Homo sapiens: one gene and its partner. The protein of the gene in region 1 purifies or fractionates together with the protein of each later gene. This does not show direct contact. Each region holds a gene or a part of one and is shown in the gene's direction. Other genes may lie near its edges.

What was found. Proteins that work in one complex are often made in the same cells at the same time.
Region 2: the proteins of SLC45A2 (region 1) and MID1IP1 purify together in Homo sapiens (affinity purification with mass spectrometry; 2 studies listed by BioGRID and IntAct, with this or other methods). This does not show direct contact.

What each region holds. Positions count from the first base shown.
Region 1 is NC_000005.10:33,946,690-33,953,712, reverse strand, and holds part of SLC45A2 (membrane-associated transporter protein), read left to right. Parts: intron 1-2,035; coding exon 2,036-2,159; exon of another isoform or gene 2,160-2,341; intron 2,342-6,338; coding exon 6,339-6,550; coding exon of another isoform or gene 6,551-6,565; exon of another isoform or gene 6,566-7,023. UniProt on the Homo sapiens protein: Proton-associated glucose and sucrose transporter. May be able to transport also fructose. Expressed at a late melanosome maturation stage where functions as proton/glucose exporter which increase lumenal pH by decreasing glycolysis.
Region 2 is NC_000023.11:38,797,017-38,804,472, forward strand, and holds the start of MID1IP1 (mid1-interacting protein 1), read left to right. Parts: upstream 1-4,442; 5' UTR 4,443-4,471; exon of another isoform or gene 4,472-4,776; intron 4,777-5,518; 5' UTR 5,519-7,397; intron 7,398-7,456. UniProt on the Homo sapiens protein: Plays a role in the regulation of lipogenesis in liver. Up-regulates ACACA enzyme activity. Required for efficient lipid biosynthesis, including triacylglycerol, diacylglycerol and phospholipid. Involved in stabilization of microtubules.

The sequences.
Region 1 (7,023 bases):
ATATTGTTATGTGTGAATTTGATCCTGTCATTATGATGTTAGCTGGTGATTTTGCTCATTAGTTGATGCAGTTTCTTCCTAGTCTCGATGGTCTTTACATTTTGGCATGATTTTGCAGCGGCTGGTACCGGTTGTTCCTTTCCATGTTTAGCGCTTCCTTCAGGAGCTCTTTTAGGGCAGGCCTGGTGGTGACAAAATCTGAACAGACACTTCTCAAAAGAAGACATTTATGCAGCCAAAAAACACATGAAGAAATGCTCATCATCACTGGCCATCAGAGAAATGCAAATCAAAACCACTATGAGATATCATCTCACACCAGTTAGAATGGCAATCATTAAAAAGTCAGGAAACAACAGGTGCTGGAGAGGATGTGGAGAAATAGGAACACTTTTACACTGTTGGTGGGACTGTAAACTAGTTCAACCATTGTGGAAGTCAGTGTGGTGATTCCTCAGGGATCTAGAACTAGAAATACCATTTGACCCAGCCATCCCATTACTGGGTATATACCCAAATGACTATAAATCATGCTGTCTATAAAGACACATGCACACGTATGTTTACTGCGGCACTATTCACAATAGCAAAGACTTGGAACCAACCCAAATGTCCAACAATGATAGACTGGATTAAGAAAATGTGGCACATATACACCATGGAATACTATGCAGCCATAAAAAATGATGAGTTCATGTCCTTTGTAGGGACATGGATGAAATTGGAAACCATCATTCTCAGTAAACTATCGCAAGAACAAAAAACCAAACACCGCATATTCTCACTCATAGGTGGGAATTGAACAATGAGATCACATGGACACAGGAAGGGGAATATCACACTCTGGGGACTGTGGTGGGGTCGGGGGAGGGGGGAGGGATAGCATTGGGAGATATACCTAATGCTAGATGACATGTTAGTGGGTGCAGCGCACCAGCATGGCACATGTATACATATGTAACTAACCTGCACAATGTGCACATGTACCCTAAAACTTAGAGTATAATAAAAAAAAAAAAATTAAAAAAAAAAAAAAAACTTTTGCTCAATAGAAATTAACTTGTTAGCTCCGGCCTGTATGAAATACATTAAAAATGAAATTCTTACAGCCTGCAAAGTCTTCCAAGGGGGTAAAGTTCCACATTATATCACACACATATGCATTTTTGTTTGCTTTACTGTGACTTGGATTTACTACAGAGACCTCTAATTTCTTAAATGACTTTTCACTTATCTACAGATGGAAGAATAGGACACGTAAATGCATCACTCATAATTGAGTGTTTGTAATACCTCTCACATCTTGAATCAAAATAAGAAATAAAATGCTGAAACTACAAAAAAAAAAAATACAACAAATAGGGCCAATTGATGTGAGCTGTAGCAATCATGGCAGGCTTCAAAAAGGAGGGGTGGGGTTCAGGCCGGGCATGGTGGATCATGCCTGTAATCTCAGTGCTTTCGAGGCCAAGGTGGAGCAATCATTTGAGGCCAGGGGTTCAAGGATGCGGTGACCTATGACTGTGCCGCTGTACTCCATTCTGAGTGACAGACCAAGACCCTGTCTCTTAAAAAATAAAATATGATAATAAATACACATAAAAAAGGAGGTGCAGTATGGTCTGGGCCTTGAAGGGTGAGTAGGAGTTAGAGGAATATTAGAGAGGGAGAAAACATTCCAAGCAGGAACAGGAATGGCCCATGTGGAGATGAGTCAGAAGCCGATTGGCTGTAGCAGAAGATGAGTGGTGGGATTTCCTAAGTCAGGTGGGGCCAGCTGTGAGATGGAAGGAGGAATGTTAAGGATCCAAGAGAGTGTTGTTGAGATCTGATGCAGCAAGCATTAGATTTCTGATAGGTCCTTGAATGAAGATGTGATAGGATGCGACTTGGTCATGACAGCATCAGCTCTGTACTCTAGAAAGGGTCCCTCAGGCAGGGACATTTGCTCCCCAGAGGTGGAGAAGCAGAGTGCATGAGAAGGGTTCTTACTACATTGCATTTGTACCTCAACAGCCTCCAATCTCTCTTTCAGATTGTGTACCGCGGGGATCCCTATAGTGCACACAACTCCACAGAGTTTCTCATCTACGAAAGAGGAGTCGAGGTTGGATGTTGGGGCTTGTGCATCAACTCCGTGTTTTCCTCACTTTATTCTTGTAAGTCTTTCTCTCTCCTAAGGATGTCTTCTAAAAGTTTCTGGTCTAGCACAACTTGGATTTGATATTTCTATGTGTATTTCCTACTGTTTAAAATACCAGATTCTTAATAAATCTATGGACGTCAGGAAAAACTATCACCTTAAAAAGGACCATATAAAGCATCCTTTTTTCATCATGAATTCTAGGTGTCATTTCCTCACTGATTACTTTGCTCTTGGAATCAGTGGGTTCCTGATCAAGTTTCTCTGGAAAATGAAAGGGAATCTTTACAAGATGAAGTGTTGGATGGATGAGTCCCAGCAGGTTCGTGTTCTACTGGAGCAAGATCATTGGTAGCATTTCATAGATAGGCTTATCAGATTTGTAGATGATACAGAAGAGAAGCAATATTAATATGACAGGTGACAAAGTCAGCATGCAAAATGACCTTAGCTCAGATGTGTAACTGGGTGGGTTATAGGAGCACCACACCAGGATTGGGGACAGCTGGCTTTCCTTCCCAGGTGCCAGCTTTTCTGAGCCTCTTAACCTCCACTTACCTAAGTTGCAGCTGTGAAGACACTGAACAAAGGGATTTCTGCTATTGTCTTTATGTAAGTCCAGGTGGCTGTGCTATAACTCCAGGGCATTGCACAGGCTGCATTGTACTTGCGACTGTGTATGGATATCTCCAAGCTCTGTATACATTGAGTTAAGTGAAACGTCTGGCCTGAAAAATGTATGCAGTTCTCCTAATTATAAAGAGCTCCTATAAAGAGCTCTTCTTCTGCAAGATTGTAAGAATAACTGACCCCCAATTCAGGGCTCTGGGCTTTGGACAGGTCCAGGGGACAGCAGGGATATGGCCCAGGTGAAGGAAGTGGGAAGAGATGGGGAGAATCCCTGTTACCATTCTCAGGAGGACTCACTCTGTCACTGTCAGCCTGCTTCTTGTGAAGGGAAAGTGTGGATGTATGTGAGGGCCCCTTCCCCTTCCCTTTACCTAGCCATAGCACAGCAGGAAACCTGCCTCAAGACCTCTTAAAAATTTAGCCCAATTGGGAAAATGGGACCTCATATAAACATGCAAGTTGATGAGCCCAATAATCACGTAACAACAACATTCATTATTTTAAAATTTATGATACTCAAAGAGTAGTGCTTAAAGATCACATTTATTTAGCAAACTCTTTTCTTCCTCTTCGAGTGTGCAAACTAAGAAAAAATCCAGGAGGAAGATTTCAAGCACTTAAAATAGAATAAAAGAATGTTAGACTAAAAGGGTCTAGTAAATTATCCAGCTTAAGTCCTTCATGATTTCAAGGGCTGAGGGGACTATTTACCACTACCCTCATGCTTTTTTTTGTTTTTCTTCTTTTTTTAAGACAAAGTCTCACTCTGCCACCTGAGCTGGAGTGCAGTGGCATGATCATGGCTCACTGCAGCCTCAACCTTCTGGGCTCAAGCAAGTCCCAGCCCTCTGAGTACCCGGGACCACAAGCACATGCCACTGTGCCTGGCTTATTAATTTAAAAAAAATTTTTTTTTTAGAGATGGGGTCTCCCTACATTGCCCAGGCTGGTCTCGATCTCCTGGGCTCAAGTGATCCTCCTGTCTCAGCCTCCCACAGTGCTGGGATTACAGGCATGAGGCACTACATCCAGCCCTACCTTCATCTTTGTCAGAAAGAAAAGTGTCAATCTAAACTTATTTTTCCTCAGGGAACTCCTACTAGATAACATTCCATTAGTCTTGTCCGCATAAATTTTATGGCATTTGAAACTTTAAAGCATATTATTTTTAGGTCCCTTCTAGTTAAAAGCGTTTCTAGTTACAAAAGAAATTATTAGTTGAATAGTTTTCCAAAGTTTTATTAATGTATAAATCTATGGGATCCCTACCATTGTTAATTCAAATCAACATTTTATTTATAAAATACCAGCCAGCTCTGCTCAAGGATTTTAGGGATTCCCCATGCCCATAGGATAAAGTCAAATTCCTGAGCTTTTCACAGTTTGGCCTAGTTCATACTTTGCCCTTTTTCACTCCCATATCAATTAACCACCCTCAATGACCCACTATGCAGACTTTCTCATTTCTGGGTATTTGCCACTGCTTTTAGTTTCTTCTGCCTGAACTGCTCTTTCTACTTCCCCAACTGGACAACTTCTAATAATATTTTTAGACCCAGCTTAAATATTACTTCCTCAGTGAAATCATTCAAGTTTTCTTCCCCCTGCACCTCAACCCACTCTGGGCAGAATCAATCCTTTCCTTTCCTTCCAGAGCTCACTATATTACCCTCTATTTTGGATTCATCACATAACATCAGGAGCAGATTCAGAGTTTCTATCCACATGGAGGTTGGCAGGACAATCTGGCTGCTGAGGTGGAGAGTGCTGATAGGGACTTGTTTCTAAGCTCCTTTTGTATACAGCAGGTACAGGTATACCAATTAGAACAACAACACTGAGTACTAAGATATGGCCTATTGTTCATACCATAATATCATACACTACTAGTCATAACTGGTGCTTAAATCTATAATTTCCCCTCAGTCCTGAAGAGAGGCATTGTGTGAGGATATGACTACCACTGGGTATCAGACCCATCAGAGGGCAATTCAAGCTTGGCCCTGAAGTTCACTGAATTATCTTTGTGAATAAAGTATTCTTTGCCAGACTTTCAGTCTCTGTACTGAAGTTACTTATGTTTCCAAATACCTCTTTGCCCTACTTTGCCTTCTCCTCTGCTGGCATACACACTTGGATAAGAGCATTTCCCTAATGGGTATTGATGGTATCTTTTAGGTATTGAGACACCTTAGATTACATTTTCTGTATAAATATAATTATTAAGCAAGCAGAAACTGTTCTAGCTTTATTCTCATTTTTGTATTCTCAACCTTAACAACAGTCCTCCAGTCATGGTATAAGTTTAATAGAGGAAGCAATGTTGCCTACTTGTCATTTCCAGATCTTTGTCTTCCATCAGTGTGAGAGTGTTTAGTTTCATAATTGATTCAAATGTACTGCAAATAAGGTTGCTTGTCTACAAGGTGTAAGTCCAATAATTATATGAATAGATATGGAAAATGTCATTCTTAATAGTCACGTTTCAAGTATCTGTTATTTATCCTCTGATTCTTGTGTTCCAGGAGAATGGGGCAGGGAAGAGATGAGGAATGTGTGGATTAAAAACGACTGAGGGAAGAAGATAAAAACAATTTAGAGATTTTCCTTGCCATTGTAGAAAACCTTGTAAAATGTTTTAAAGCAGAATTTTTCATTTTTAAAAATTAGTTCTGCCACTATACTGATATAAGCAAGCCAAGTTGACCTGCTAGAAGAGGAACCCAGTTAAAAGTCAACTGTCTCCAGCTCAGCCTGTCTTGTTGCTTAATTGGATGTTTTCTACATGCTAGGCATTAAGCTGGGTGATTTCATAGACACTTCATCTCACTTGATCCTGGCAACAACTCCAAAAGATGGTTTTATTATTCCCAGTTTTCAGATGAGGAAGCTGGGGTTTTGAGAAGTCAAGGAACTTGTTTACCAAGAGTTAGGGAGCCAGCGATGAGGAGATGCTGGGTGCTGTGGGAGCCCCTTACCAGTCTGGGAAGGATTGGCAAGTCAGGGAAGGTGTCTTCAGATAATTGTACATCTTTTACCTCCTTCTCAGGTGTGCAGACTCCATTCAGATGGGGGCTAAGAAATCATGAATGACTTAGATCATTCTGTAAATTTTGGTTGTTTCAATTTTCCCCAACCTGACTTTGGGTTGTAGGGCCAAGATAGGCCTGTGTTATTATTTTCGTCCTATGGGGCCACAGCCCATCTGATTTAGAATAACCCACACTTTTCTTGAAGCCCCAGGTTCCCATAGTTAGGTCAGATTTTCCACCACCTTTCTCGCTTCTTTTTGCTATCCAGCTGTCTGCTAAACAGTGCCAGATTCTTCTTTGTAGAAAAAAAATCAGCCTACCAAGGCAATTTCAAGCTGTCCTTTATGGAAAGGTCTTTAAAATGGTTCCAAAAGCCAGCTGTTTTCAACCCACAGATAAGGGGATTCTTTTGTTCCTGGCTCAGTATCAAAGGATGTCTAAAAAGGTGAATCTTCAGAAGAAAGGATTGTCTGAAATTATTAAATGTTATGAGGCACTGCCAGCTGTAATTTCTCCCTCTCTTCTTCCCACAGACTTTCAGAAAGTTTTGGTATCCTACATTGGATTAAAGGGTCTTTACTTCACGGGATATTTGCTGTTTGGCCTGGGGACGGGATTTATTGGGCTCTTCCCGAATGTCTACTCCACCCTGGTCCTGTGCAGCCTGTTTGGTGTAATGTCCAGCACCCTGTACACTGTGCCCTTTAACCTCATTACTGAGTACCACCGCGAGGAAGAAAAGGAGGTGTGCTGTCATTGAACCTCTGCCTTGGGTAACATCCAGACTCATCTGAAGGCTGGGGAGGATTTGGTAGCAATGTGTAGAGCAGAGCTGGAAAATAAGGGTTCTTGAAACAGCAACAGTCAAATGCCCAACCAACTGCAACCATGATCTGGTACAGGCATGCTCACCAGCCCAGCCCAGCCCAGCTGTCCTGTCCTCCTTATTCTCAACTCCTGCTCACTTAGGGAGCTGTAGGGCAAGAAGTGTTACTCCCATTTTTCTAATTAGAAAAAGGCTTGGTGAGGCTGAGAAACCAGCCCACAATTACACAAAGACAAAAAAAGGGGGACCCAGGTCTTCTGTAACCACCTCATAGGTCTCCCTGGTGCCACCTGCAGCATTTCTAGATACCGACAATAAGGGTCTCCCTATCCCCAACTTTCAGAGGTACATAGTGGAATTTCTTGGCATTATTTGCTGAGGGTAGGAAAGTC
Region 2 (7,456 bases), on another chromosome or scaffold:
TTACTCATTTAAATTAATTTTTTTTGTTGTTGGCAGGCTTCTACCAGTAAGTTTCTCAAGAAAAATCCTGAGTTCATGTTTGAGAATGTCTGCTTATTGTTTTTTGCTTGAGTAATATAATACTTTTGAATCATACATTCTTTCTTCCAGCTCCACTGTCTCCTGTAGTGGAATGTTTTTGTAAAGCTGGTTGGATTCTCTCCTCCCCTGAGACCACCATCTTTTTGGTGACTTCTTTTCCTGCTTGGACACTTGAAGGCTTTTTTTCTTCTTCTTTGAAGTTGAAAAATACAACTAGCTTGTTTTTCAACTGTTCTGCATAATTTTATCTGGTATATAGTATGCTTATTAAATCTGCAGATGAATGCATCTTGTCAAGGAAAATTTTCTATGTTACAACTGAATTTCTTCTATTTCACATGTTGAGGTCTCTTTGGAAACATCAGTTAAGCTTATATTGTGTGTGTGTGTGTGTGTGTGTGTGTGTGTGTGTGTGTGTGTATGTGTGTGTGTGTTTTGAGACGGGGTCTCACTCTGTTGCCCAGGCTGGAGTGCAGTGGCATGATCTCGGCTCACTGCAACTTCCGCCCCCTGGGTTCAAGTGATTCTCCTGCCTCAGCCTCCCAAGTAGCTGGGATTACAGGCATGCACAACCATGCCCAGCTAAATTTTTTTGTATTTTTAGTAGAGATGGGGTTTCACTATGTTGGCCAGGCTGGTCTCAAACTCCTGACCTCAAGTGATCTACCCACCTCAGCCTCCCAAAGTGCTGGGATTACAGGTGTGAGCCACTGCGCCTGGCCTATATTATGTTGTCTTTGTCTTCTCTATCCAACATTTCCTCTCCATTTTCTTTCACTCTTTTGTGTCTTTTCATTGGGATTACCTGAACCTTTTGCCCTATGCCAGTAACTGAATTTTCTGGCATGCCTGTTTTGTTCCTTGTTTGGAATTACATTTATTGACTCTCTAGTGATGTGTTTGGTTCAAATTTTGTTTCTTTTGCTCTGCAATATCCTTTTTCAAATCTTCCTAATTGTTTATTATTTTTCTATTCTTATCAAGGTCTTCTATAGCTGGAAGGACTTGTAGGTTGTATTTGCTTCTAGATTTACATCTTTTGTGTACTAACTCTGTCCAGACTGTCTAATATGATGTAGGTGAATTCGCCTTGACTTCATTGTACCTTGTCTAGGTCTAGTTTTTTTATTATTAAGGTTGGAAGAGTAAATTATGGAAGACTTGGGCGTGTAACTGTTGAACCCGTCCATTGGATAATGTATTTATGACACTGTAGCTTCAACAAAATGAAGCTACAACCCATATGTATATGTATATATGTGGATTTGTAATTAGGACTTGAACATATGAAATATTGATAATTATGTGTTTTCTCCCTAATTTGGTGTTATAATTTGTAAACTTTGAATCTAATTTCAGAATTTAAACTAACCAAGCTGACACATTTTAACAGGATAGAGTGAAGAAAGAACATTCTCATTCTTCCTTCTATGCTGATGGTACAAGAAAGTCCTGGAATCCTAAGGATCTAGGAAAAATCAACTTGAGAAGTTTCTATGTGGTAAGAAAAGCTATGATGTGTCTTGCCCTTTTCTCATCTACCATATTGAAATTGAATGTACAGTTCTGTATACGGTTCAGAGTTCTTAAAGATGTAGAAATGATGAGAACATAACAAAAGGTATTCTTTAGTATTCTCAACTTTCCCTGTGCTCTACTTCTTCCAAACGCAAGGCTAAAGACGCTTTAAAAAATGAGATTGTGACAAAATGCTAACTACGACATATTCAGACATTCCAAAACCTGAAAGTGGATCTGAAGCCAGCAGATTCACTACTCACTGTTCTTAGGTTTTGGCATTTTTCTGTCTACCTTCTCTCAACTAAACCTTCATGACGGTTTTTCCTGTAAGGACAATTACAATAAGATACACTCCCTTCCCCATCTTAACTCAGATTATTATGATGCTATTTCTGCATTTTTGTATCATGTGATGGTGGTTTCTTTGTGGTATATGACAAAAATGCCCTTCTTCTTGACTCCACAGGAAGAAAACTGGCTATTAGCTTGGGACTTCAGCAAGGCACTTAGCAAGGTCTCTCATAATATCCTGTGGTCAAGAAGAAAAATATAGGCTGGATGACTGTACAATTAACATGATTCATAGCTGGCTGGAACAACTTATGCCAAAAAGTGCCAATTAATGGACGGATATCAAACTGAAGGAGCTCTCCAGATGTTCTACAGCAATTTGCCTCTTGCCCAGTGGTGCCTGGTACCTATTATCAATAACTTGGATAAATATATAGAATAGTTATCAAATATATGGGTAAGATCCAAGTGCATTACAGCACAGAATCAGGACCCAAAATAATAAAACAGGCTGAACTAATGGGCCAAATCCAATGAGATAAAGTTTAAGTAGGATAATATAAAGTTCTGTACTTTGGTCCAAAAAATCCCCACTACTCAAGTATAGGGTACACAAAATTTTGTTATATAGATGGCAGCATATAGATGTAGCTGTTAAAATAAGTCCATTAAATGTTAGGCAGCATTATAAGCAGTAGCTATCTATTGAGTAGTAGAAAGAACATTGGATTTGGCATTAGAAAACTGGGTCAAATCCCAGTTCTGACAGTTTGGCCCTTAAACTCTTTGATCCTTGCTTTCTTCTCAGGGTGGTTGTGAAGTTAAAATGAGTTAACATGTCTTTTGAGTTAACAAGTCTAATTTCCAAGCACTTGTGCTCAATAAATATGACCTAGAAAAATTACCATTCACAATAATATAAGTGGCTGTGCCACTCCATTTTGTCCTAGAAAAGATGGTACTTGGAATGAGAGGGGCCACACTCAAAAGCAAACCAGAGCTACTTCTAAAGTTAGTGACTAGGATGGATGAGCGACTCAAAAGAGAACATGAAGAATGGCTACAGGAACTGGGGATAACTGACTTGAAGAACAGTAGACTTAAGGAGACCATATCTACCTTCAAACATCTGATGGTGTGCTTCATGGCCTTCTGTAGAGCTCCAAAAGATAGAAGAACACTGGAGAACGGAAAATAGAAGAATGTAGGCAAGGGCGACCACTTGGTGGGGATGTTGTGAGCGATTTCAGCACAAGTGGATGGTTGGACTACATGGCCTTTAACACGAGAGTCTGACTGTCATATTTCTAGGACATTTTTCATGAAATGGATCCTTCTAAGTCTGTCTCAAAATAATCCAGGATCTCTGCTATCTTGGGTTGGGCTGGCTTCTTGCCTTAAAATATCATCTTTCTTCCAGTTCTAGGCCAGATCTCTTCTTTATCCAGTCTGACTTTCTTGCACCAGTTTACTCTTGCTGACTACTTTGTTCAGGAATTTCTGGTCACTTTTAAAATGTCATTCCCCCCCCCCAAAAAAAAACTATCCAAGGGACACAGTACAAGGATAATTTGTGGACATTTTTGGGGAGATGAGCCAGCAAAGCATGCTTTCCAGGTTGCTTAATTAAAAGAGTGGGAATTAAGAACCAGAATTTAAGAGTTCCGGCAGGGCGCTGGTGGCTTACGCCTGTAATCCCAGCACTTTGGGAGGCCGAGGCGGGCGGATCAAGAGGTCAAGAGATCGAGACCATCCTGGCCAACATGGTGAAACCCCGTCTCTACTAAAAATATAAAAATTAGCTGGGCGTGGTGGTGCGCGCCTGTAGTCCAAGCTACTGGAGAGGCTGAGGCAGGAGAATCACTTGAACCCGGGAGGCAGAGGTTGAAGTGAGCCGAGATTGCTCCACTGCACTCCAGCCTGGCGACAGTGCGAGACTCCGTCTCAAAAAAAAACAAAACAAAAAAAAAGAGATCCAGAATTCCAGAATTGCAACTGTGAACCAAGAAGTGGGGATGGGTACCTCAGACAAGGCTTTTACCGGAAATTTAGCATATAGGATAGAAAGCAGAGACCAAAGACCTCTTGCTTTGAGGCTGTTGGCGTGCTACAAGGACTCGAAAGTTATTTGTTCAACGGATGACTTCTGTTTTCTGGAGGCAAACTGAATTCCGGGCAGGTGGCTCAGCACCTCCAGCCTGTTCCAGATCGGGACAGGGAAGGTGCCTGGGGCAATCAGTGAGGTTTCCAACCTTCCTTAGGCCTGGGCCAGCCCGCTCCCCTCCCATGTGACCCCAGGCAACCATTTTAATTTTTTTACAGCCAAGCGTAGTGGAGAACTGGCTGCGCGCCGGTTGCCAGGGACGCGGCAGCCAGCTTGGCGGGGCTGGGGTGAAAGAGGACGCTGCGTGGGGGAGGGCTCCGCGGCTTCTGACTGGCTGGAGCATCAGGATTCATTTGCATAATATTTTCTGACGGCTTCTGATTGGCTGAAGCCAGAGGGGCGGTGGTGGGGTGATTCCAAGGGCCCAGAGCTCTGGCCGGCGGACCTTTTCCTTCTGGAGTTTCCCCGGCGGGTGTGAGTTGTTGCGGGGTCTGGGGGAGCTGGGAGGCCCGGTTTGGGAAGTTTTGCAGGCAGGTGCATGAGCCATCTTTCTCTGAAAGTGTTTAAGAAATGTTCAAGAACAGCGGCCAGAGTCAAGAAACTGGGGGATGAAGGGTTATCTCGAGACTAGACGGAAGGAAACGTATCAGGGGAGGGGTGGAGGCCAGAAGGAAGGAGTTAGGTAGGGGCCCTCTCCCAAGCTGGCGTTTTTGCTGGGTGGAATCCTTTTGCTAGATCCCTTGGATTTCCGTTTTCCGTGTGTTATCACACTGTTGGAACTGGGAAGAAGAGAAAAAGAGGCAAGATTTTGGCATTTAGTAAGTTAAGTCTGAATACCGAGTTTTCATCCGGGTGCATACGTACTTAAAATACCAAATGGGTCCAGGAAGGGGGACAAAGTACGCTTTAATTTATGAGAAGATCAGCTACTAGAAACTGTATATCTGTTTTTCTCGAGTTTTCTTCTTGCAGTGCTCTTTCAATCTCATTGGACATATTTTATATTATTTTCCTGCTTAAGCACTGGGGGTTGGGTGGAAGGATCTGTGGCTCATCATAGGCAATTTCCACACTTTTAAGGTTTCTGACTCTTCACATAAACACCTCTCACTATGATGAGGTCCTGTATCAAGTACAATTAATCTTTGTACTTTACAATTTACATAGTGATTTTTATTTACATTATCATATTTAAACTTAATCAAAGTCCTTGGCACGGCCCATGGAACAAGCTCCATTTTTTTGATAAAGAAACTGAGGCTAGAAAAGTTTCTATGTGTGCAGAGAAGGAAGGTGAAATTATTTTAATGCTTCAAAGTTATATAATGCTTCCTGCCTCCCTGTATTTTTCTTTCCATTGATCTTCCTTCAAAACCCTGATAGGTCTATCCCAGTTTTGCAAGTAAGAAAACATGGGCTGTGATGTAGAGCTAATACGTTTTGGGGTAGTGGGTCCTCAGACTTAGGTCTGTCTCCAAGGGTCACTGACTTTGTTTTGTTTTGTTTGTTTTTTGTCAACAGATTAGTCCTTGTGGCACCAAGTCAGAATTTCATTCAAAAGACAATTAGGAAGATGGTTTTCTATGGAAAATATTTAAGTGTAGGTCTTAATGTGAAAGAAAGAGGGAGAGAAAGAAACCCCTTTATTATGTTCTCCCTTCCTTAGGCATTTTTTGTCCCGTGGGAAAAAACTGTACTAGGGACAGAGACCTCTGTTAAGTTTTAGAGAAAAGGGATCTTTTTTTTTTTTATTTGAGACAGAGTCTTGCTCTGTCGCCCAGGCTGGAGTGCAGTGGCACGATCTCGGCTCACTGCAACTCCGCCTCCTGGGTTCAAGCAATTCTCCTGCTTCATCCTCCCGAGTAGCTGGGATTACAGGCGCTGGCCACCACGCCCGGCTAATTTTTGTATTTTTAGTAGAGACCGGGTTTCACCATGTTGGCCAGGCTAGTCTGGAACCCCTGACTTTGTGATCCGCCCGCCTCGGCCTCCCAAAGTGCTGGGATTACAGGCGTGAGCCACCGTTTCAGGCCGAGAAAAGGGATTTAAAATGAGAAGCTTGAATCTTATTGAACATAATTGTAGGACTGCCAGAGAGGACTGGTGGATGAGGAATATGGCAAGGGACATGAGATGGGAAAAATTAAATAGGCTGTGGTTTGGAAGTCTCAAAGTGAAATTCAAGGTGCAAGGCTCTTAAAAGTTAAATCCAGCGATTCGGTACATAGCTTAGGCCCTATTAAATGACCCAGTGCTTTAAGAACTATCTTTTGAAAGGAACACTTCACACAAGCACCCTCAAAAATAATTAGACACCTCCCCATTTCTCTGTTAAATGGTGAAAGACACCCAAGACTAGACCTAACTACTGTCACCCTCTCCTGGCCTCTTGGCAGCCAAAAGGCCACATGGCCCAGGCTCTCCAGCATCACTGTGTAGCCGACTTGGACAAAAATGGACTTCTCCCCATTGCCACTTGCAGATCTCTTCAAAGAATCAGCAGATCTGATAGTGTGCCCCTCTTCATCCCCGGCAACCACTGTTAAAGGAAAGATTGGGAAAGATCCCACCCCGCCAGGAGGGAGGCAAAAGCCTCTGACGCTCCCCTCCCCCCATAGCTGACCAAGGCCAGGGCCACTGCGGGAGCACCGCGCGTCCACGTGCACCCAGCATGCCCGGTCACCCTTTATTACGTAAGAGTCCCAGGATGGAGTTGTACCTGCTGCCGGCCCCTCTTCCCCGACGGCTAATAATAAACCCGGGTTCCTGTTTCCCGGCCGCGGCCACTCCAGATTCGGGGCTGAGGGGCTCACTCTGCAACCAAGGCACGTGCATTCTGGTCATCCCACGCGGGGAGCGCGCGCAAGGCCCGCCCAGCCCCCACATGCCAGCCCCACCCTCCAGTCGGTCCGGACGCCGACGCCTTTTTGACCCTCGCTGTGCCCGGCCCTCCTCATCTGGCCTGCCCAGGGCTTGGTGCTGGCGGGGTCCAGCTGCTCCAATCCCTCCTCCTCTGCTCTGCCCTGCCCTGCCCTGGCCTGCCCCGGCGCCCTCCCTCAGCCCGGGTATCAGGCGAGAGGCGGAGCTGGCCCGGCGCGCCCCGCCCCCGCTGTAGAAAGGGCCGGGCGAGTGTTACTCGCGGTCATCCCGGCCTGGGCCTTTTATCTCGGTGCTGCCGGGGGAGGCGGGAGGAGGAGACACCAGGGGTGGCCCTGAGCGCCGGCGACACCTTTCCTGGACTATAAATTGAGCACCTGGGATGGGTAGGGGGCCAACGCAGTCACCGCCGTCCGCAGTCACAGTCCAGCCACTGACCGCAGCAGCGCCCTTGCGTAGCAGCCGCTTGCAGCGAGAACACTGAATTGCCAACGAGCAGGAGAGTCTCAAGGCGCAAGAGGAGGTGGGTGCCCACGCCCCATCGCTGCCCCGGCCAGCTTGGTTGCTTGAGCTCAGGCTTTT